7 linked regions of the Homo sapiens genome follow. The protein of the gene in region 1 purifies or fractionates together with the protein of each later gene. This does not show direct contact. Each region holds a gene or a part of one and is shown on either strand. Other genes may lie near its edges.

Region 1 (2,998 bases):
TTTTTCAAATATGAGTTAAGTTTAGGTTTATTACAGAAGGATAAGGAAATTGCTGGTCCTGAATATATACTTGCCCTAATAACACATTATCACTATAAAAATTATAACAGCATAGGCTAGAATGTAAAAACATCTATTATTTAAACTTTTATCCAACAGTTATGTTTTCTTAATATAACATTAAGAAGATTAACTTCTCCTATTAGTCTCCTTAGAAATATGATAATCTTATGGCCATGAAAATAAATATATTTCATTATGCTTTATACCTGAACAGAAATTAATACTCACCTATGGACATCAATAGTTTCTAATAAACGAATGGTCACCCATGCCCAAAGAAGAATTACATGATCACACAAAAGCACGATTCCAATGAAAAATCCAGTTCCAAGAATTAGAGTCTCCAAAGGATGTGCATATTCAGCTTCCATTCCAAATGGAGCCTAAGACAAACAGATAAGAAATTCTTAATTTCTTAGCTATTGTGATGGTCAATTTTATGTGTCAACTTGGCTAGGCTATGATATCCAACTGTTTGATTAAATACCAGTCTAGATGTTGTTGTGAAGGTATTTTTTAGATGTTGTTAACATTTAAATCAGTAGACTGAGTAAAGGTGATTACCCTTCATAATGAGGGTGGGCTTCATCCAATCATTTGAAGGCCTTCAGGATAAAAGGCTGAGGTTTCCTGAAGAAGGATTCTCGAGACTGCAACACTGAAACCCTGCCTGAGTTTCCAACTTGCTGCTCCATGGAATTTGGACCCAAGGCTGCAACAATTCTTACCTGGATTTCTAGTCTGTAGCCTGCTTTACAGATTTCAGACTTGACAGCCGCACACTTGCATGAGCTGATTCCTTAAAATAAATCTCTCTCTGCATATATATACCCCAATGATTCTGCTTCACTGGAGACTTCACTAATATATATATCCTATTTATGCATAAAGTTTTACAAAGTTATATTGATTCTATATGTAGTGATGATTTATCTAGTCATACACTTATAAATAATACTAGCAATTCTCAATAAAAATACCTTACTCCACATCAAAAGTCTAGGGATATAAAATCTTGCTGTCTTTGATGGTTTAAGATAAAGGCATTAAATAATTGACTTGAACTCTAATTTTGACTTAAGTATTTATATTTGTTCTTCTAATAAAGAGAGGCTTGATTTGGCACACCATGTAATCACGGTCAATGCAAAACATACTCACATAACCAGTTGACAAAGCTACATCAAAGCAATTCTAATTGGCCGGGCATGGTGGCTCACGCCTGTAATCCCAGCACTTTGCGAGTCCAAGGCGGGTGGATCACCTGAGGTCAGGAGTTCGAGACCAGCCTGACCAACATAGTGAAATCCTGTCTCTACTAAAAATACAAAATTAGCCACGCGTGGTGACGCATGCCTGTAATCCCAGCTACCTGAAAGGCTGAGGCAGGAGAATTGCTTGAACCCAGGAGGTGAAGGTTGCAGTGAGCTGAGATCATGCCATTGCAGTCCAGCCTGGGCAACAAGAGCAAAACTCTATCTCAAAAAAAAAAAAAAAAAAAAAAAAAGCAGTGCTCATAGAAGTTACTGTTTTTGTGGGAGTTAGCAATGTGAGGATCTAGCTGTGCCAGTGTAGCACTGTCCACAAGGATGGAAGTCCGAACTTTCATATAATATTTTTCTTTCAGATCTCAATTTACCATGAAATTTAAATAATGAAAACAATGTGTAGAAATGGCTTGTTTGTATGTGTGTGTATTGTTCTTAATAATCATGCCAAAGGAAAAGAAAATAAAAACGTCACCAACAATTTTAGAAAAATGCTCAGGCAATTAAAATAGACATTTTGCCTCTAACAGAAAGAATTAAATATAACTCTCACATACCTGAAACTCATGATGAACTTTATGAATATACTTGTATATTCTTTTGTGGTGTAAGAGTCTATGCAGAAAATAGTGCCAAGTATCTTCAATGACTGCACAACCAAAGCATCTTGCCAAAAGAAAATACCTTTAAGATAAAAATGTTGTAATGTGTAAGAAATAATTTTTACTTAAACTATCCAGACTTTTAGTTGGGATCACTGCTTGAGACATTACATAAAACCACCCACCCACTTACCAGGTTGACCTAATTGGATATATTCATAAATAAATTCTCAAAACCACCAGATACAGCTACATAACTTGATATAAGGTTAAAGAGACTGCCCATTAGACCAATTTCATTTCATTACAATGTTCACACAACTTGCCTCATGACACTTTTCTCAAGAGATATCCGTTAAGTGACGCATGAGTATATATATGTGTGTGTATATATATATGTGTGTATATATATATATATATATATATACACATACATATTTTTGTTCATGTAAACACAATTTCTATAAACCTCATAAATGATTCTCATATATTTCATTCATTTTAAAATTAAAATGTAATATATTTTTGTCAACATAAGCACTTATACATGTATATAAACATACAAAAGACGTTATGGAAACTTCTGATACTAGAAGCTCACCTTCCAATAAAATATTTAAAAGATGTAAAAATGGAAACATTTTAAGATTTTACTGTGGTTTACTTTTCTACTATTTATTTACTTCCAAAGTTTAGAACAAACATTAACTAAAATTAAGAAAACGGGTAAACATTAAGTATAACTTAACTGAATAAGCCACAATTGGGTGTAAAAGCCAAATTTTTATCTACGTACCATCTTGGCATTCTTTCCCAATCATAAGGAATATTGAAATACTCTGTAAAATAATAGGTTCCACAAATCAAAGGCAGCTGGATACAGAAGTGATTAAAGAGAAGAACTTTGAAACACTTCCATTGGTTTTCCCATGTCTCTGGCTTATCCTACGAAGAAAAATCACAATATCTAATATTAGTCTCTGCTATCAGAGTTTAACTTGACCTAATTTGTTCTCTGTTTATGTTGGACCTTAATTCTACGTCAGTTATGTTAACTTTATATAA
Region 2 (3,500 bases), on another chromosome or scaffold:
CTCTGCCTCAAAAAAAAAAATAAAATAAAGTAAAAAAAGACTGCCTGGAAGGAAGGAGGCTGGAAGGGCAGCTAACATTTCCTGACTGCTTCTCCTGTGCCAGGATCTGTCGTACCCCATTTGCCCCATTTAATTCTCACATCAACCCTGTGAAGTGGTTATCCCCCTTTTACAGATGAGGCCCCCAACCTCAGGGAGGTTGAGTAAAGCATGGGGAGGTCATATAGCTGGTAAACACAGACTGAGTCAAACTCTGCCCAACCCTAAACTCTCTCTACTACACCAGTGGTGTTTTCTTTTTTTTTTTTTTTTTGAGATGGAGTCTCACTCTGTCACCCAGGCTGGAGTGCAGTGGCACAGTCTCGGCTCATTGCAACCTCTGCCTCCCAGGTTCAAGTGATTCTCCTGCCTCAGCCTCCCAAGTAGCTGGGACTATAGGCGTGTGCCACCACACCCAGCTACTTTTTTATTTTTAGTAGAGATGGGGTTTCACCATGTTGGCCAGGCTGGTCTCAAACCCATGACCTCAGGTGATCCGCCCACTTCAGCCTCCCAAAGTGCTGGGATTACAGGCGTGGGCCACCGCACCTGGCCTACATCAGTGGTTTATAAAAACTATTTTAAGTGGTGGTAATCCCAACACTTTGGGAGGCCAAGATGGGAGGATCTCTTGAGGCCAGGAGTTTGAGACCAGCCTTAGCAATAAAATGAGATCCTGCCTCTACCAAACAGACAAAAACCAAAAACACTCACACAAAACAATAAGCATTCTTTTATTAAAGCCCAATATGTAAAAGATAGTAGCACGGCTAATCCTCCCTCTGACATGAGGCATTGCCTCTAAAGCCCTAAGGCTCCCGGGAGAACAACTTGAAAGACCTGTATATTAGTTTTCTATTGTTTCTATAACAAATTACCAAAAACTTAGTGGCCTAAAAAAACACAAATTTATTATCTTATAGTTCTGGAGGTCAGGAGTCCAAAATGGATCTCACTGGGCTAAAATTAAGCTGTCAGCAGGCCTGAATTCCTTTCTAGGGGCTTGAGGAGAGAACTTGGTCTTTGCCTTTTCTAGCTTCTGGAGGCCTCCTGCATTCCTTGGCTTGTGGCCCCTTCCTGCAGCTTCAAAACCAGCAGTGGCTCGTCGAGTCTTTCTCACATGACATCACTCTGATGCTGACTCTCCTGCCTCCCTTTTCTGTGTTTAAAGGGCCTTTGTGATCACATCGGGCCCACCCAGGTAACCCAGGATAATCTCCCTGCTTTAAAGTCAGCTGATTAGCAACCTTAGTCCCATTTGCTGCCCTAATTCCCCTTTTCCATGCAACTTGACATATTCACAGGTTCTAAGGATTAACACTTGGACATCTTTGGGAGCCTTTATTCTGCCTACCACACCTTGCACTACCCTCTTGCCCCCAACCAGAAGTGCATAGATGGAGGCAGGAGAAAGAAGAGGAGGGAGGCCAGACTTGGAAAGATGAGGCTTGTCTTTGTGTTTCCTTTCATAGAGAAGTGCCCAGGTAAATCAGGAGGTGGCCCTAATGTCCTTGGACCTTAGCAGCCTCTCTTTTGCCTCAGATTCCTGGGGCTGCAAAGCCTGGGGTCAATCAGAATAGGAAGCCAGGCCTCAGGCAGAGCAAATTTTGGGTAGTTCCATCAACTGGCAAGAGCATTCCCACTTGCTTTGGGGTAGCCTTCCCAGTTGCTTTGGGGGAACCAGATGAGCTGGGCTCATCTCCTTTCTAAATCACAGAAGATTCAGATCTCAGGAGTCCATTTGGCTGGGTCAGTAGTGAGTTGGCTCAAATTTGATGGACTGATACACAACTCTCAGAGCTCATTTCTTGCCTCTGACTCTTCTTTTTTTTTTGAGACAGTCTCCCTGTGTCAACTAGGCTGCAGTGCAGTGGCACGATCTTGGCTCACTGCAACCACCACCTCCTGAGTTCAAGCAGTCCTCATGCCTCAGCCTCTTGAGTAGCTGGATTATAGGCACTTGCAATCATTCCTGGCTAATTTTTGTATTTTTAGTAGAGACGAGGTTTTGCCATGTTGGCCAGGCTGGTCTTGAACTCCTAACCTCAAGTGATCCACCTGCCTCAGCTTCCCAAAGTGCTGGGATTACAGGCGTGAGCCACCATGCTTGGCCCCTTTGAGTCTTCTAATAATAATAATAAAAATAATGGTAATGGTGATAGTGGTTGCCATTTTGGGGGTGCTTTCATGTACTAGGCCTGTGTAGGGCTTTAGGGCTTTTTTTTTTTTTTTTTTTTTTTTTGTGGGGTGGGACCTTGCTTTGTGGACTGGGCTACAGTACAGTGGTGTGATCATGGCTCATTTCAGCCTCCCGAGTAGTTGAGACTACAGACATGCGCCACCATACCTGGCTAATTTTTAAATTATTTTTAGAGACAAGGTCATGCAGTGTTGCCCAGGCTGGTCTCAAACTCCTGGGCTCCAGTGATCCTCCTGCCTTGACCTCCCAAAGTGCTGGAATCACAGGTGCAAGCCATTGCTCTGAGCCTATAGGGCTTTTTATATACACTTTATCCTGTAATCTTCACAGCCACTCTGTGAGGTGAACGGTTAGTCCTAGTTTATAGATGAGGAACCCAAGGCACAGACGTTAAGGAATATGCTCAGAGCTCATGAGTGGCAGGGCTCAAATCCATACCCAGAGCTGTCTCGCAAGGTGTTCTGACTCTGGCTCAGTTGTTCCTAGATGAGAGCTTTCCTGCTCCAAATTCTCCCCTCCCTGTAGCAGATCAATTAAGGACTGCTTCACTTGTTATGCCAAGTGCTGACACCACAAAGAGGGTGAGTAAGTTCCTCCAGGAACTCAGGCATATAGAGACAGAAGGCCGGTTACCCAAGGAAGAACTTGTCCCTCCTTCTGAGCCTTCCTTGACTTCCCTGATGAGGTCCCTTTCTCCCTGTGATATGCTTTCCTTTGTAACAGTTAACACAGTTGATAGGTCACATTTATTGAGTTTAATTATTCAGTTAATTGTTATCCATCCCTTGGCACTGCCCTACAAGTTCTGTGAGGCACACAGATTTTGTCTTCTCCTCCTTTACTGTAACTCCAGTGCCTAGTGTGGAGTGTAGTATGGAAGTATGACTCCATAGAAGTATGAGTACTGTAGGTACTCAGTACCTATTTGTCCTCTGGGGGAGAGCAGTGGAGATTTAGAGCAAGAGAGCCTCTCATCTAGGAGCAACTGAGCTAACTGGAATGAATGAATGAGGGCCAAAGAAATGGTAGAGTCAGGTGCTTCAAAATTAATGAAGGGGCCTGGCGTGGTGGCTCACACCTGAAGGGGCTCACACTGTGGCTCATCCCAGCACTTTGGGAGGCCAAAGCGAGCAGATCATCTGAGGTCAGGAGTTCGAGACCAGCCTGGCCAGCGTGGTGAAACCCCATCTCTACTAAAAATACCAAAAAAACTAGCCGGGGCATGGTGGCAGATGCCTGTAATCCCAGCTACTCAGGAGGC
Region 3 (3,500 bases), on another chromosome or scaffold:
GAAGGAAGAGCTAAAATAGAATTTTTAGCACATCTGCACAATAATATTCAAGAATTCAAGGCATCTAACAGAATAACAGTTTCCCCTGAAATGATTTCAGGTAATTTCTCTGAACATATTTTAGGGCAATAAAAATATTATAAATCTTCTTAAATTAGTTTAGCTAAAGCTTAGCCCTACCACACTGTTTTATTTTCCATTTCACAGTGAAATACACCATTATATATACATATATGAGAGAGAGACCATTTCATTGACCACATGCATGGCTATAGAATTCTCTTTTTATTAGCAAACTGAGTTCTGCACCCATTTTGCGGTATGGGTTGATGGCTCAGAAAGAAGCGCAAGTTTTCTTTTTAAAATAGCAATTCCTAAATGCCTTTGCAGCAAATAAACTTGTAAATAAGAGCTTTATTTCCTTCCTTTTTATACTGTTAAAGGAAATCAGACATTAGTATTAATGAATTGCTCTGAGTGATCACGTCATGAATCTATTAGTTTTTTTTATCTTAATTAAACAGTTAATTTAATGCTTTGTGGCTTGTGGGTAGATTGTTCTAGCATTTTTGGTTGGTCAATGACTCCCAGAGGTCTAATAGGCCTGTATCTTTTAGTTTTAAATGTAATGTTAGTCTAAAATAGATTCAGAAAGAAGTTGATTACTTCATTCTTGAAGGAAGTAAAACAAGGAAGATCTGGTGTCTCTCCAACAAATATTTTTTGAAACTTCATTTTGAAAAAGCAGAAATGAGCTGGTTTCTCAATAGATTTATTTATTTAGTCATTTCATCATACCTCTATATCTATTTTTAAAATCACTATGTAAATGGAAAAGAACTTGTATGGTAGAATTATGCGCCCAAATGACTATTCATTGATACAATGACTTGCTCTCCAAAGTATTATTTAAGTTAGCAAGGGCAGATTCTTTAGTTTGGAGGATTATTACCCACCTCTCACTGGGTAACTGTCTGTGTCAAATTTTCCTGCTTCTACTACCAAACCTCAGCCAATTTCCTAAATTTCACGTAAGTAAATCTATAAAATTCACTGTCCATATTTATCTGCCAAATTAGTGAACTGTAAGATGAAGATGAATAAAGAAAAGCCTGTAAGAATTATGGAATTTCAGCAATGGCTTAGTTGAAATTCAGCAAGAGAATTTCAGTTGAGGGCTTAATGTACATTTAACACTTTGTTGGATGCTAATGAGGTGAAAAACATATTCTACAATACTTCCCTAAGGAAACAAATAAGTACTGTTAGACAGTAAAGGCAATTCAATGTAATAATGTAGTTTTGCAATTTATGGTATAGGCAACATTGATTTCTCTCTTTCCTACTCTCTCACTCAGGATGAATGAAGAAAAAAATGGTCCAGTCATTTGCTTAACTCAGGCCTCAGTTTCCACAACTCCAAAATGAGAGCCTTATACTAGGTAATCTTTCTGTAAGGATCCTTCAAACTAACCTCTTTGTTATAAACAGATACAGAATACAGAAACCACTGAGGTTATATGACTGACTTCCCTAAGGTTACAAATATAGAGTCACAAATTGTATAATATATAAAATGGGGAAGAGAACATGGAGAAAACTCCCACAAATTTTATTAGGTTGGTTCAAAAGTAATTGTAGTTTTCACCATTGTGGTTTTCACCGCAATTACTTTTGCACCAACCTAATTCAGAATTTAAAAGTGAAAAACATTTGAATGCTGAGAAGATAATACATTGTTATAAAGTAATTTGAATTTTTACCATAGATTTATACTTTACTTTGGGTAAGTGCCATTTTCAGAAAGGCAGCCAAATTTGTACAAACATAGTGGATATTCTGAGTCTCTTGATTGAGAATGAAGCAACAAGATCAAATAAAAGTTCATTTGTTTCTCTAGTATAATACAGAATACATTTATCACAACACTTATAGAGTGAGAAATTATTAAAAAAACACTCTATCCCTTCTCCCAGATTTCTTTAATTTCTTATGATAATTGAAATAATGCTTGTCCTTCCTACCTTGGATTCATTCGTGGATAACTTTTCTTAATTATTCCCCATTTCAGTCCATTAATACAGCTTCAGAATTATTTCTGAAAAATGTTGTTCAAATGTGCCACCTTTTAAATTCCATTGTGATTATAGACTCTTAGGGTTAGTAATTGAAAGCTCATTTCAGACAACTCCCTATCTCATGTTTGAACTCTGCACATCTCCCACTCTCTTTACAATGGCACCAAATAATGCTACCCAATTCCTGGGCAGAGCATAGATAAGGCTAAAAGTTGTCAGCTACCAAAGTAGCTGCTGAATATCAGAATGAAACCCAGGGACTCTAAAGTGGGTTATGAAGTGATGAGCTTCAGCTAACAGGGAACATTAGGAAATGACTGCAGACAAATCCTCATGCTTAATTCAGAGAAAGATGTACGGTTTGATTGGAGGGGGTGAGGAAGAAGGATATCATACAGACTATAAAGCCAAGAAGCAATGCTTAGAATGCAAATGTGTTATAATTTTGTGTGTGCAGTGTAAAAAGACTACTGGCCATATTTTAAAAAGTCATCTAGGTTACACTCACATACTTAAGAACACCAGAATTTCCATTTTAAATTTTAAGAAAATAGACATAATTGTTTGCACCTCTTACATGGCACTTAGCACATTGTATTACATTGTTTTTTCCTTAGATATGGAGTCTTGCTATGTTGCCAAAGCTGACCTTGAACTCCTGGGCTCAAGCGAACCTACTGCCTCAGCCTCCTGATTAGCTGGGACCACAGGTGCATGCCACTGCACCTGGCTTCTATCGCATTTTATTTTTATTACTTGGTTTTTAACTTATACTTTAGAGGCAGGCCTGGTGTTAAAGGTTTTACATGCATCACGTCACTTTTAAATTTGAGTCTTATCTTTCCTACTGGATTATAAATTCACATGGAACAAAGATTATAATTTATTCATGTTTATACTCCCCAGCTACCGTTTGCATATATCATTACATATTGTGGCTTCTCTCAACATATATTTGCTGAATAATTAATATACAAAAAGACACAAGCACTGTGGGAAAGGTATTTATAGTGCAAATTTGGAGTTAACTAGAACCTAAGTTCTAGTCTGTTATAAGCCTCTATGTCCTCCTCCGCCAAAAGAGAAAATCAGACTGGATGGTTACTGAGATAATTTCAAATGCTACAACTTTAAGAAAATATCAACAGTTTCTAATTCTGAAAATCCACTTCAAATAATAATACTCAGGTAGTTGATTTTATGCCCCAGAAGATTAATGGTTATGACTCTTCAGCTACTTAAGTAATTCTTATAAAATCTCAAGTCAATATTCACTTCAGGTCTCTAACTTGTCATTTTCCATTCACTCCAGTGCCCTACATTTGAAATGATTCATGTCTTAAAGATTTCTGAGTGATTGAAGACATGTCTTCTTTTTGTCTTTTGTTATTTAAAGTAAATTTAAGATATCTTTGGCTATTA
Region 4 (4,181 bases), on another chromosome or scaffold:
ACAGGATAGGCTGCAAGGAGGAATCAGGCATGATGGAAGCAAAATGGCTTTCTAAGAAGCAGTGGGAGATTGGAATGGCTAAAGTAAGATGGGGTCAAACATTTCCTGTAAATTAAAGACAGGAACATAAAACATATCACTTGAAATTTGTACACATTTCATGTGACTGAACACTTTGAGGCAATAAATCTTGACATACTTTTTCAGGGGCATGAGTTAATGTGGCTAAAGTTCAGATGAGGTGAGGATCAGATATTGGAAGAATGGGAATCCATATTAAGGACTTTGGATTTGATGAAAGAGTCCATTTATGGTGTTACTGGAAATATTTCACTAGGGCTGGAACATTGGCCTGCGGCTGGCACACAGGATGAAGGTGGAATAAGTCAGGGAGACCACTTAGGAAGCTGCTATGATAGGCCAAAGTGGGAAGCTGAGTACCTGGACCAAGATGGAAGCAGCAGATTGGAGAAAGAACACATCTGAAAGTCGCTGTGGAGATGGAAATGATAGGACTTAGAAATCACATGGGAAGAGCCAGAGAAAGTCCTTAGGTTTCTCCGGGTAACTTAAGCATAATAGGAACACTATTAGAAGTTCATGTTCCCATGAAAGTTCCTTACCTGTGGAGCCTCCCATGCCCTCCTGGTGAACCTCCATTTCTAAGGAAACCCTATAGCATTTACTGAGTATCTTAATTCTCCAAAAAATCAGACTTCTCCAAAGAAAGTCTTTAAGCATGTATTCACTAACTTGATTTTGCAAAATTACGTTAGCAAATACGTGCTATAAGGTTTCTAACCCGACAGACAAAAGCATGTAAATCATTTTACTGCTAGTTTTGGTGGAGGGTAGTGACAACTGCCAGTGTTTCAAAAAAGAGTAACATATCCAGAGTTTGTTCACACAGAAATGAATGCTTTTTAGCTTCATAACCCCTGTGCCCTTCCCGTGAGCCCCATCTCCCCAGGAAACGATATAGTACCAATTTACTAACTTAATTTGTAAAAGGAGGTTAGTGAATCAATTCTGTAAGACTCATGGAAATATTTGAAATTAATTAGCCTTGTCAGCTTTTATTTGCATAGGCTCTCTTCCAACCATATCCCCCAGCCCAAGTACAACGTTTTAGTAAGATTGATTTTAAACAATGAGACTTAGAGAATCTGTGTACAAGGAGCTTGAATAATTTAAATGCGTGGGTTTATTATTAACACAGTAGCAAATATATCAAGGAAACACGCCCCATGAAAAGTGTTTCAAAGAAACACAAATCTGTACTGAAAAAAGTCTATACGCAATAAGTAAGCCCAAAGAGGCATGTTTGCTTGGCGATGCCCAGCAGATAAGCCAGGCAAACCTCGGTGTGATCGAAGAAGCCAATTTGAGACTCAGCCTAGTCCAGGCAAGCTACTGGCACCTGCTGCTCTCAACTAACCTCCACACAATGGTGTTCGCATTTTGGAAGGTCTTTCTGATCCTAAGCTGCCTTGCAGGTAAGGAAAGGATCTCCAAACCACCAAATATAATTGGAAACAGAGTTTCCTTTTAAATAAAAATTCCACATTTTTACATAGAATTTTCATCTCCTGTACTTCAAATGAATTGTGATTAGTATGATGAGTTAATTTTCAGAACTCTTGCTTAGCAAACATATGCCATGCTGATATATTAGGGGTGTAAGCCCATAATATTATTGTTTTATGGAGCTTCTGAATGAAAATTTTCTCAGAAAAAAATATAGTTTATTACTTTACTTACTTTGAAAAGTGAAAAAAATGAATTTACTCAGAAACCAAACTTTGTGCTAGGGATAATTTTGTCTCTGTTTTACTTACTTTAGTGTTTCCTTTAAGCTCAGTGATTGACTTGCTCTAGCAGGCAGAGCCTGGGTTGGAGGGCCTGCCCTGGCTTACATATGGGAAGAACAGAAATTTACTGAGTACTTTACTGTCTAATATTTCTTAAGGAGTTGTGGTTTTCCAATCCTAAGACTGTATTTTGCAAAATATGTGAGTGATTTATGGTGCACAACATGGGTGATTTTAGGTATCTGAACAGAAGAAAATCAATTTTGGAATCAAAATACTGATGTTAGTTAGATCCAGGAGAGATCATTAATTCCAAAAATCCCTTGGGTAGTTTTCAAATATCAGATACATTTTGCATCTGTTCTTATAAGTTAGGTCCATAGTAAATACAATAATATTGTTTATCCAAAAACAGGATTTTCAAGCCATTAGTAATATTAGGCAGTGGTTAGAATGAGGTTTACTAGGCGTATTAATGACATAAGAAAATACCCACGATAAAATATTAAGTGAAAAAGCAGGATGCACACATATGCCTAGAATAAATTACTAGAAGGTTATATACCGAAGTGCTCATGGTGGTTGCCTCTGGGTGATGGGATTATAGATGATTTTAATTTTATTTCCCAGCTTTTCATACTTCCTGGGTTTTCTACGAAGAACATTATGCTATTTTTATAATTAGAAAAAAGTGTTACTTTTCAAAGTGATCTCATGTTTAGAAATAGTTCTTTAAATGTTCATTACTAAATGTTTAAGCATAGATGTTTTATGGAGTTAAACATCACCAGAAGGCAATACTCCATTTGTCCAGTGACCTAACTAGGCCCTAGAGCTGGAAACACATGTTCCTATTTTCCCTTCTCCCCAGGCATATTCATTTAAATGTAACTTTAGATATGGAAGTTTTGTCTCTTCTTAAAGGGTTTCCAGTCATTAGCCAGTTGGGTCGACCCCTGGGCCTTCTGCATCAGCCCTCTAAGATCATACCTGTTTCCCTATGTGAAGCCTTGCCCTGGCCCATACTAGGCACAGGGTTTGGAACGGTTGTTAAGAACAGTTTTTTTTTTTTTTAACTGTACCTAACATACAAGTAATTTTTACTGATTATAAATGTAATGCATGGTCATTGTAGAAAGGTTGGAAATATGGAAATTTAAAATAAAATAAAAATCATCTGCAATTTTACCACTCAGATTTGGGTGAATTATTATTCTTTTATTTGCAGGTGTATATATTACATTTTAAAAATTGGGTTTATTCCTTGTATACTTTTTTATTGTTTAAAAAAATTGTTTAGCATCATGTCAGGATTTTATTTTATTGTGACTTTTAGAACAAGACCAATAAATACTTCAGAGTGTGTTTCCTAAGTTACTATATAACTGATTTTGTTGGTATATAGTGTACACTATATATCTACACACATATTATCTAGTTGGCCCAAAGCAGTAGTGTCAGTACAGCAAATTGTGGTATGCTCTATTGTCGTTTGCTGTGCTTACATATGTATTGAAGTCAGAGAAAGGATCACTTTAGTAATCTACACCTGTCATTAGCAGTGTTCATCAGTTGATCTGGACAACTGATAGTGTTTCCATCAATGTGCAATTTGATGTTCTTCCTGGACTTGTTTTGGAGAGAATGTCACTTTTTGGTGTTAAGCGTGGTGCCTAACACATAGTGGATGCATAGTAAATGTTTGTTGAAAGAATGAATTACTTTCCCAAATTCCAAACATCCAGACATCATTTTCACATACATATTTAAAATTGATTTTGATATAACTAAACAGGTCAGATTTTGCTTAAATCAAAATATTTTCAATGACTTCTTAGGAATTCTTAGGTTAAATTCTAATTCAGGAAAACGAGTTTTAATCAAACTTCTGCAAAAAATTTATGCATATCATTTTAGGTATTTGAAATATGTATTAGTCACCTCTTAGAAAGATATGTTAATGTGGGTTTCATTTTCTGGAGGTATATGCTATGCATTTTAAAGGAGTAATATATTTGAACTTTGAGTTTGCACTCAAATCCAAAAAAGTGAGTGATCATTTGATTATATTATTTCCTAAGTCAAAATGAATCTATTATATATGAAGTTGCTGGAAATTAAATCACTTCAAATCTATCAGATTAAATATGAATATTTGGGGGATATTTTGCTGTGGTACATTAGGAGGATAATAATCCTTCTATAAGCAAAATGTTTGCCACCTTGTAGGCATTAAATGAATGAACAATCACCACCAAAATACAAGACATTCTCTCTCTCTCTCTCTCTCTCTCTCTATATATATATATATATACATATATATATACATATATATACACATATATATATACATATATATATACACATATA
Region 5 (3,307 bases), about 69 Mb from region 1:
TATTAAAAGAAGTGCCCAAAATAACACCTGCAACTAGATATAGAGAAGGCAGCTGCTTTGAACATGTAATAGGGACATTTGGGTAAGAATTTATCATTTGCAAATAGGCAATGGATATAAAACAGAGCATGCATTAAGGTGAATGGCTTAATATTCTAAATAAAACAGGATCCCTAGTTAGGGTTGGCTTATTGGGGCACAAAATCGCCTTCCTGGTAAAAGCACAAAAAGAGAGAAATGATATGTGATCTTTGTATCCCTTGGTCTAAGGCTTCTCTTCTCTTGTGATTGAACGGTTTCCAGTGGCATAAGCAAACTCTGTTGCTCTCTTGTAGTCCAAACTGTGTATTGTTTGGTGGGTCACTTTATAAGAAGTAACACTTTCTAATGGTTACTACATAAAAAGGCACTATAAGAACATGTTTCTAGATTTCCTGGACTAAGGCTGGTCCAGTTTGATTGATATGAAAGCAAAATAAATAAATAAATAAATAAATACCACCTGAAAGTCTATGGAAACCTGCTGAAGACATTTTTATAGAAAACCAAAAAGAAAAAAAAGAGGAAATAAACAAAAGGAAGAGCAAAAGTGAAGTAGTCAGAAAATAGGGATAAAACTAGGTAAAAACAGAGATTCAGAATTATTAAACAGAGTAAGGAAAAGTGGAATGTCACAAACTACAAACTTTTTACCACAATCTGCACCTCAACCCTCTCTCCCTGCTTCCAATTTTCCCACACCAAGCAAAGTTTATTACTGGGTTTAAAGTGTTATCCTCAGGCCGAGGTTTGTATACATTTTCCCTCCCCACTTCAAGTGTCACAGGTGCTAGACGCCATCAGGATAAATGTGGCATATTATTTGAGAGTACTGACTTTTCTTTAAAAGGGGTTTTTGTTAACGTGCGTGTGCTTGTTTTGTTTTTAAAGTTAATTAAGCTACAAATAATTTACAGCTTTGTTGTTACCTTAAAATACATATGGCACATTATGGAGCAGGATAAATATTCATACCTATTTTAAAGATCAAAAACAAGACATTAAAGAAATATTGGTAGGAAGAAATACCTTTGGACTAACTCTCAGAACTCTCATGTGCCTTAGGGACTGAGTTTGTTCCTTTCTTCTATTTGATACGCTTGTCGGGAAAGCTTGAGATACAGTGCTCCAGGGTTTAACAGGGAAAAGGGACTCAGATTATTGAGGTTCAGCAATGACGGCGATTAGGATGCCCTGTAGTTTGCCCAAGTCCTCCAGAAAAGGAAATCACTTTTAGTCTTCATTTTACAGCTGGCAGGCACTGTACAAATCAGTCAGCTCAGGCTGCGTGGCCCATGTCCCAGTGCTGTGCAGGACCTGCCTCTATCACCCGTGTGCACTGCCCGGATGGTGCCAAGCGCATTGGAGCACCGGAAGGAGACGCGGAGCCGAGGCCAGGCCTTCCGGCGGTCGTTACGGGACGCCGCTGCCATCTACAGCACTCCGTGAAGAATATGCTGGCCGCCTTCATCTCCCGCGTGTTGAGGCGAGTTGCCCAGAAATCAGCTCGCAGAGTGCTGGTGGCATCCCGTAACTCCTCAAATGACGCTACATTTGAAATTAAGAAATGTGATCTTTATCTGTTGGAAGAGGGTCCCCCTGTCACTACAGTGCTCACTAGGGCGGAGGGGCTTAAATACTACAGGATGATGCTGACTGTTCGCCGCATGGAATTGAAGGCAGATCAGCTGTACAAACAGAAATTCATTCGCGGTTTCTGTCACCTGTGCGATGGTCAGGAAGCTTGTTGCGTGGGCCTTGAGGCCGGCATAAACCCCTCGGATCACGTCATTACATCCTATAGGGCTCATGGTGTGTGCTATACTCGGGGACTTTCTGTCCGATCCATTCTCGCAGAGCTGACGGGAAGAAGAGGAGGTTGTGCTAAAGGAAAAGGAGGATCGATGCATATGTATACCAAGAACTTCTATGGGGGCAATGGCATCGTCGGTGCACAGGGCCCCCTGGGCGCTGGCATTGCTCTGGCCTGTAAATATAAAGGAAACGATGAGATCTGTTTGACTTTATATGGGGATGGCGCTGCGAATCAGGGGCAGATAGCCGAAGCTTTCAATATGGCAGCTTTATGGAAATTACCTTGTGTTTTCATCTGTGAGAATAACCTATATGGAATGGGAACATCTACTGAGAGAGCAGCAGCCAGCCCTGATTACTACAAGAGGGGCAATTTTATCCCTGGGCTAAAGGTCGATGGAATGGATGTTCTGTGTGTTCGTGAGGCAACAAAATTTGCAGCTAACTACTGTAGATCTGGAAAGGGGCCCATACTGATGGAGCTGCAAACCTACCGTTATCATGGACACAGTATGAGTGATCCTGGAGTCAGTTATCGTACACGAGAAGAAATTCAGGAAGTAAGAAGTAAGAGGGATCCTATAATAATTCTCCAAGATAGAATGGTAAACAGCAAGCTCGCCACTGTGGAAGAATTAAAGGAAATTGGGGCTGAGGTGAGGAAAGAAATTGATGATGCTGCCCAGTTTGCTACCACTGATCCTGAGCCACATTTGGAAGAATTAGGCCATCACATCTACAGCAGTGATTCATCTTTTGAAGTTCGTGGTGCAAATCCATGGATCAAGTTTAAGTCCGTCAGTTAAAGGGAGGCTACGTGTGAATTTATCATCAGTCTCTCAATGGAATGTTCATGGTCAAATTTAAGAAACTGTGTTCTCAACTCAAGGAGGAATAAAACTCATAAAACAAAAGCCTTGTAAGCATTTATTAAAAGAGATTATTAAAAGAGATTGAAAGACATGCATTCAATAAAAGTGATATTATATTCAATTATACTGTATATTTTTGCATTAAAAGATACTATATAGGTAACAATTTAGTGTGAATATCTTAAAGATTATTTTGAACTTATACAAGTCTAAAATAGGAAAAGGAGATTATTTAACTTCCCAAACTGTTTGTCATAACAGTTCCATTTGATTTAGCTTTATACTATTTTAATGCATTCTCTTCTTTAAAAGAAAGTTGTTTCCTGCTTCCCCTGCCATGGGTTTCTATGTAGAATCACCATCCTGAGGTAAGGAGATTATTTCAAGCTACTCAGGACACCTATGGATATGTAACCATTTACTTGAATTACCTAATAACGAATACAGTTTAGTGTAACAGTGTGCGCATGCGCACACCCACACACGTGGTGCTGAAGTTTGTTAACACTGACCGTTTTTCCAATAATATATGATATTTAACAGGGCAGGGGAGGAAGAACAAGGATTTTTTTTTTTCATAT
Region 6 (3,500 bases), on another chromosome or scaffold:
AACCAGGCTGTCGTGGGGCATAGCCTTCCAGGAAGCCCGTCCTGGGCTTCCCTGAAAGACAGACACACAGAGTTCCATGGAATGTCAGTCTGAGAAGATAAGGACATTTAACAAATTAAGAAAGTCATGAGTATTTAGACAATAGAACTAGTCTGGGAGGGCCTTAAATGTCAGCCTGAAAAGTTAAAACTGCTTCCTTTTGGCCATGGGCAGTGACAGAAAGTTTCTAAGTAAGGAGTAGATGATGTCCCTGCAAAATGGTGTTTCAGGAACACTCTTGGCACGTTGTTCAACACTGGGAACATTCTGTCTCTCATGCAGTGTGTGAATTAAGGACAAAATGGAATTTTGAATTTAAGATGTGAAAGCCTTTGTTTTCTACTTTGTCCTCTTACTTTTAGACAGGGTCTCACTCTGTCGCCCGGGCTGGAGTACAGTGGTGATCATGGCTCACTGCAGCCCTAAACTCCTGGGCTCAGGCGATCCTCCTGCCTCAGTCTCCCGAGTAGCTGAGACCACAGACGTACACCATCACACCTGACTAATTTTTAATTTTTTTTTTTTAATTAGAGGCCGTGTCTCACTATTTTGCCCAGGCTGGTGTCAAACTCCTGGGCTCAAGCAATCCTTCTGCCTTGGCTCCCCAAATTTCTGGGATTATGGGTATGAGCCACCGCACCCAGCCCTACTTTGTCTTTTTAGATGGAGCCACAGATGCTAGTGTTTTGGATAGACAGGGCTTCACGAGCAGTGTGGGACAGGGAAGGACCCAGAAGCTGGGGGTCATTGGAGAGGCTGAAATTTCAGATAATTTTTGCATTAGTTTTAAATGAAATTTCGGATAATTTGATTCTAAGTCCTGTATAGAAAGAGAAATTAAACTTAGAGACTTCCTAAATAATAGCACTACAGATTTTACATGCAAAGTGTGGAGGATTACCTTTTACAGCAAGTCAGGCAGAGATTTGGGACCAGGGACTTCTCATGGGGTATATAGGTGGAATGATAACCTCTGCATCCATTCCCAGTGGTAATCTTCAAAAGGATGTATTATAAGTGGTAAATTTCCCTTATGCTCTGTGGCATCTCAGTTTAGCCAGTGGAAAGACTTTTTATAAAGACTTATGCTAAGAGCCTAATAACGGGCCTGAGTACAGAGCTTAATAGTGGGCCTGAGTATATGAGGCTGTAGGGCTGGAATCAGCCATGCTCACCCTCTGGTCTCTGAAAACACAGTTCCATTGTCTGGCACTTAGATGAGTTATTGTCACTGAGCACCATGGCCTGAAAAGTATGGGCATTGTGGCTAAATAGGGTGTTAAGTGCCACCTATCCAGCAGTCCAGCACCTGAGTGACTCCACTGGGTTTGGGGTACCTGAAAAGCAAAGTGTCCCTGTTATCTACTGCTGCATAACAAATCACCCCAAAACTCAGCGACTTAAAACGACAATAACCCGTCATTCTCTCTCTCAGTTTCTGTGGGTTAGGAATTCAAGAGTGGCTAGCTGGGTAGGTCTGACTTGGGTCTTGTGGTCATAGTCACACCATGGCTGGGAGCATCTTGAAGTCTCCACTCGCATCTGTCTTCTGGGCTGAGAAGCTTGCTCAGGTGGGGACTGGGACAGCCGGGGCTCCTGGGGGGGCCTTTCCATCTCTGCATGGTCTGTACAGCAGGGTAGTTTCAGGGTAGCCAGACTTCTTACAAGAAGGCTTAGGGCTCCAAAGGTCCCAAGAGAGCTGGGTGGAAGCTTTATCTACCTTGGAAATCACACAGCAGTACTTCCATCTTACTGTATTAGAGCAATTACGGCCTGTGCAGATTCAGGGGGGTGGCATAGAGACTCTCCTTGATAGCGGAGTGGCAGAGTTCTGGAAGAGCACGTGGGACTGGAAAGAATGCTGTGGTCGCAGATCGTGGGTCTGGAGGCCAAGGTGTACACCCCACATTGGGGCTGCTAGCATCATAACAGTCCACCCATGCTTTGGGGCCTCAGCAACTTCTCATGTCTGTAGGTCCTGGCAAATGTAGCCTACATCATCATAGAGTCCACCGAGGAGGGCACGACTGAATATGGCTTGTGGAAGGACTCTCTATTTCTGGTCGACCTGTTGTGTTGTGGTGCCATCCTCTTCCCAGTGGTGTGGTGAGTAGCTCACAGGGAGGGAGGCCACATGACAGCTTGGCTGTCAAGCCCAATAGCTGAACTGGCCATTCCCAAACTGATCTCAGTCACATGGGACGTGTGTTTAAAAGTACAGCTTTCTGAGTCCCAGACTGACCTGAATCAGCCTCCAGGGGCAGAACCCTGTGTCTTTTTCCAGTTACTCGGGGTATTCTGGCAGAGCTAATCCGTCACCATGAGCTGGCATTTAACAGAGTTCTAAGACAATAGAGAGGAATTGGGAAATGAGAACTTGGTAGTAACTTAAAGTAGCAGCCTGAATTTGTGGTGGTGGTAGGGAGTTGGAGAAATCCCATAAACAGCCAGTTCTTGCCAACTTAGGTGGAAAATGAGGAAGTTCATTAACATAAAACTAGTGATAGTTCTCAGCACACAAACATTTTTGATGTTTTCAGAATGGATTGCTCCATTCCTGGAAATGGCAGTGTTTAGATGCACAGATTGTGCATTGGGTCTGTGTAAAGAAGTGTTAGTGTCAAGTCAGTGGTTGATGAGAAAATATCCTTATTAAATCACATGCAGAGTGGTAGAAATTCAGAAGGCTAGCAGCAATAAAACACTTTACCCTTAGTGATATAATTCCATGGCTATTGGAATGCAATTCTTTTGAAATAAATTTTAAAGAAAATAGATTCACCCCGGCCTTCCATTACAAGTGCTTCTTTTTTTTTTTTTTAACCCGAGATGGAGTTTCGCTCTTGTTGCCCAGGGTGGAGTGCAATGGCTCAATCTCGGCCCACTGCAACCTCTGCCTCCTGGGTTCAAGTGATTCTCCTGCCTCAGCCTCCTGAGTAGCTGGGATTACAGGTGCGTGTCACCATGCCTGGCTAATTTTTTTTGTATTTTTAGTAGAGACAGGGTTTCGCCATTTTGGCCAGGCTGGTCTCAAACTCCTGACCTCCGGTGATCCACTTGCCTTGTCCTCCCAAAGTGCTGGGATTATAGGCATGAGTCACCGCAGCTGGCTGAGGTGCTTCTTATTGCAATGCCCCATCCAGTAAATTAATATTTTTGAGGATCCTGGGGTTTGTCAGTTACTCTCATTATTTATAACATGGTGCAAATGGAGAGTACTTCTCATTCCAGCCAGTTAGATTCACTCTTCACCCTCATTCCATCATACATCACACATGATCTCGTATCAGTTCAGCAGACAGCTACCAGCATAGAAGAGAGTATGAATGATGCTCCCACCTCAGCCTCCTGGGTAGCTGGGACCACAGGCACACACTACCATACCCAGCCAATTTTTTGTAGACAGGGTTTTGCCATGTTGCCCAGGCTGGTCTCAAACTCCTGGGTTCAAGTGATCTTCC
Region 7 (3,500 bases), on another chromosome or scaffold:
CTTGTCTCAAAAAAAGAAAAGAAAAGAAAGAAAAAGAAAGTAGGTCTCTTTGCAGAAAGCCTCAGGCCCTGAACTTTTGTGTCATCTTCTCATTACTCAAGTCTAATTCCCTACATCTCACTTTTACACACAGATCATTTTTTTCATGTTTGTTTTGATTGCCCACCCTGGAATTCTATTTCTGCACTACCCTTTAAAAGTGAAAGATCAAATCTAACGCTCTAATGTGGGAAAGCATTCCCTCTATTTCTACAAGCTTATTTACACAAAAAAATAAGCTTGAGACTGATCAAAAGCTGAATTTCTACCAAATAGGAACTTACTTTTTATGCCGTAAATTATCAAGGCCATCTCAAGGCAGAGGTGAGTTTAGCATCTCATGCTTTATGCTCCTTTCTTCTGCACCTACCAGATTTTTATTACATGTGAAATTATATGAACATAAACCCCAGGGAAACATTGAAGATGAGTGTGCCGTCACAAGTGACGAGGGGACAGATGAACAGGGAAGAGAAATGGGGCAGCAGCACTTTAGAGTGACTTACTTCTCTCTTGTTTTCTCCTCCCTGAATCATTTTCTAGAACCAGTATTGTGGCCCCTAAAATTTGGGGCTTAGGTCAGTCAACTTACCAAAGTTCATCTTCCTGGTGATGAAAGGACTTTCATCAAAATCCCAGCTACTTTTTATTCGTTCCCACATTTTGTGGATTAAGAAACTGAGAACCAGAATTTATAGAGATCACTCAATCAATTGGCATATTCCCGGATCACAACAAATTGATAAAATTCTTGAGAACCCTCTTTCTAATACAGATTGACTATAATTTTGTCTTTCATTTTTAGTTCTCTTATTTTGTCTCATGCACTGTGGATTATCTGGTTTACTGCAGTCCTTACCTGAATAGATGTCAGTGTTTTGATCCCATTGTTGTATTCCCCTAAAACACGTCAAATGAAAAACTGGACACTTTAATAGGTTTATTGTTAGCACTCTCTCATGCTGATCAATTCTCAACACATGCAGTTGTAGGATTAGGAAGACAAAATCCTTTAGAAGAAGCTATGAAACCTAATCCTTCTGCATCTGGATCATTTTAAACTACAAGTTGTAAGAGGAATGAGCATCTCTGGATTCTAGTTATCAGTGCAGACCAGATGGAAGGTCTTTATGAAATCTGGTATGAGAAGGAAAGCATTTTATAGCAAGAAGAAAATATTTTGAGAAATAGCTACCAGCAGCAGCAGCTAGCAGTTCTAAAACTCTCAGATCCTCCTAATGACCCCATTAGGGAGGGAGGAAGGGAGCAAGGAAGGAAGGAATGAAGGAAGGAAAGAAGAAAGGAAGGAAGGAAGGAAGGAAGGGAAGGAGGGAAGGAGGGAAGTGTTATAAATATTGGTCAGGGAAAAGTTTTATTATTAATGACAGATTAAATAATTAGCTACTAGGAAAATTCAAGGGGATACATAAAAATGCCATTAGAAAGAATAAGAGAACCCAGTAAGGTGGCTAGCTACAATAGCTTGCCTGGTTAGCGACAATATAATCATAGGGATTTATATTACGCTTGTACACTGTTGGGCAGAAAACATGCCTGAGAGGTATAAAAGATGCTGTTAGCATCCAAGAAAAATGGGAAAGGAAAGCCCACCTCATCTGAGGAAGATGGAGGAAGAAGAACCTACAGAAAAGGATTCCACATTCCAAACTCATCCCTCTGAATTCAGTAATATTTATCCTTATATGATTTCTGACAGTGTAGTTTGTCATTGTAATTAATTCTTTCCTGTAAGTAAACAAGAATTGTATACTTACTTAAGTACCTTACATTTTAAACTTTATTACATAGTCCTAATTTTAATGTTGAACTCTGCCCTAGTCAAGGAAGTATTTGTTACCTAACACAAGAATTTGATATACAGTCATCCATAAACACTATCCTACCATATAGTTCATCATAATTTAACATTCAAAGAAAGAAGCATGATTTCCTCTTTTATTATGCTTTCATTTGAGCCATTTTAACTTTCTTACCATTCTTTCCTTCTGAACCTAATTCAATTCCTTACACAATGCTCTAAAAAATCAAGGATTAAATATGTAACTTAATTTATAATTAGCAAATACATCATTTACAAGATGCATTCATATTGGCAAGCATATTTTATTTCATAGATTGTAAACTGGTAAAACAATGTAATCTCCTCACCCTCTCTGCAATACAGTAAGCCTGTTTCTAAGACCATCAAGGTTTTACTTTATGTCCGAGGCATTGGAGAACCAGACTGTACTGACCCCAGGGTTTGGTGACTTACATATAAATGAAGCATCTTACCAAGAAGGGATGAAAAATGACTTTAGAGGAAGCAAAAGTCTCAAAGCTCACAAGACTTGATTACTTTCAGCTTGGTGACAGAGGCAATGCTCTTGTGATGCAGATGGAGTAATTTCTCCAGCACAAAAGATGTCCAGCCGGGTCCCATTGGCTTTGAGATAATCTCTCACATTGCATTAAGTGTACTGAGTACCCTTTCTCAGACTTATGTACCATTAGCATGCATTTAATTAACAGTTAATGATTACATAGTATTGTTACTATTACCACATAGTCCTGTTATATTAAAATACATGAAATTTGTAGCTATGTTTTGCCTGTTTAGTAAAATGAGTCTGAATCTAAGGGTGAGAGGGTCTACACACAGCCAAGAGGATGGGGTATTAACCCAGGCCTGTGTGAAGATATTTGCATCTCATGGAATGCTCTCCAGAGAACAAACTGACCTACCCTGTGCATGTCAGCTAAGCTCCCGCCAGCTTCCTCAGGGCTTGCTGAATGTACAGTGAGTGCCACAGTGCCAGCGTGGCAGTGAAGCACAGGCCCAACTCTACGGACCTGGGGTCAGAAGGCCTGGGTTAATACCCCATTCTCTTGGCTGTATGAGCTGCATGGTCTGTCATCGTTACAATGGGGACAATAATACATGCCCTGTCTACCTCAGCCTCCTTTCAGGGAAGTTTCTCAAAACAGAATATGCTATTGTGATTCATTGTCACCTGTGATGTCAAACTGCACCTTGTGTTATACTACTAGGGGGTAACACAGCATGGGGCTCAAGCCCAAGCTCTCGAGTCCAGAAAGCCAGGTTCATATCCCAGCTCTGCCATTCATTAACTGCTTTCACATCTCTAAACCTCAGTTTCCTCATTTGTTGGGGCTCACATAACAGTACTATGTCATAGGGCTATTTATGAGGATTAAATGTGTGTATTCATTATTGCTAAATAATAAATTACCCCAAAACCTAATGGCTTAAAGCAACAGATTTTTATTATCTCTATGATCATAGTTCCATGGGTTGGGAATCTGGGTATGGCTTAGCTAGGTCCTCTGGCTCAGGTCTGTCACTCACAGGCTGCAAAGTTTCAGCCGAGACTGCAGACATCTCAAGGCTCAACTGGGGAAAGGTAACGCTTCCAAGCTCGCTCACGTGGCTGTTGACA

Evidence for each region.
Region 2: the proteins of MSMO1 (region 1) and PACC1 purify together in Homo sapiens (co-immunoprecipitation; one large-scale study listed by IntAct). This does not show direct contact.
Region 3: the proteins of MSMO1 (region 1) and HTR2C purify together in Homo sapiens (co-immunoprecipitation; one large-scale study listed by IntAct). This does not show direct contact.
Region 4: the proteins of MSMO1 (region 1) and VSIG1 purify together in Homo sapiens (co-immunoprecipitation; one large-scale study listed by IntAct). This does not show direct contact.
Region 5: the proteins of MSMO1 (region 1) and PDHA2 fractionate together in Homo sapiens (co-fractionation; one large-scale study listed by BioGRID). This does not show direct contact.
Region 6: the proteins of MSMO1 (region 1) and GPR107 purify together in Homo sapiens (co-immunoprecipitation; one large-scale study listed by IntAct). This does not show direct contact.
Region 7: the proteins of MSMO1 (region 1) and HTR1E purify together in Homo sapiens (co-immunoprecipitation; one large-scale study listed by IntAct). This does not show direct contact.

The regions. Positions count from the first base shown.
Region 1 is NC_000004.12:165,337,669-165,340,666, reverse strand, and holds part of MSMO1 (methylsterol monooxygenase 1), read right to left. Parts: intron 2,879-2,998; coding exon 2,730-2,878; intron 2,016-2,729; coding exon 1,889-2,015; intron 447-1,888; coding exon 292-446; intron 1-291. UniProt on the Homo sapiens protein: Catalyzes the three-step monooxygenation required for the demethylation of 4,4-dimethyl and 4alpha-methylsterols, which can be subsequently metabolized to cholesterol.
Region 2 is NC_000001.11:212,404,887-212,408,386, reverse strand, and holds part of PACC1 (proton-activated chloride channel), read left to right. Parts: intron 1-3,500. UniProt on the Homo sapiens protein: Chloride channel gated by pH that facilitates the entry of chloride ions into cells upon exposure to extracellular acidic pH. Involved in acidosis-induced cell death by mediating chloride influx and subsequent cell swelling.
Region 3 is NC_000023.11:114,590,586-114,594,085, forward strand, and holds part of HTR2C (5-hydroxytryptamine receptor 2C isoform a precursor), read left to right. Parts: intron 1-3,500. UniProt on the Homo sapiens protein: G-protein coupled receptor for 5-hydroxytryptamine (serotonin).
Region 4 is NC_000023.11:108,043,684-108,047,864, forward strand, and holds the start of VSIG1 (V-set and immunoglobulin domain-containing protein 1 isoform 2 precursor), read left to right. Parts: upstream 1-1,381; 5' UTR 1,382-1,447; coding exon 1,448-1,496; intron 1,497-4,181.
Region 5 is NC_000004.12:95,838,658-95,841,964, forward strand, and holds PDHA2 (pyruvate dehydrogenase E1 component subunit alpha, testis-specific form, mitochondrial precursor), read left to right. Parts: upstream 1-1,435; 5' UTR 1,436-1,493; coding exon 1,494-2,660; 3' UTR 2,661-2,807; downstream 2,808-3,307. UniProt on the Homo sapiens protein: The pyruvate dehydrogenase complex catalyzes the overall conversion of pyruvate to acetyl-CoA and CO(2), and thereby links the glycolytic pathway to the tricarboxylic cycle.
Region 6 is NC_000009.12:130,102,406-130,105,905, forward strand, and holds part of GPR107 (protein GPR107 isoform 3 precursor), read left to right. Parts: intron 1-2,014; coding exon 2,015-2,145; intron 2,146-3,500. UniProt on the Homo sapiens protein: Has been proposed to act as a receptor for neuronostatin, a peptide derived from the somatostatin/SST precursor.
Region 7 is NC_000006.12:86,940,528-86,944,027, forward strand, and holds part of HTR1E (5-hydroxytryptamine receptor 1E), read left to right. Parts: intron 1-3,500. UniProt on the Homo sapiens protein: G-protein coupled receptor for 5-hydroxytryptamine (serotonin). Also functions as a receptor for various alkaloids and psychoactive substances.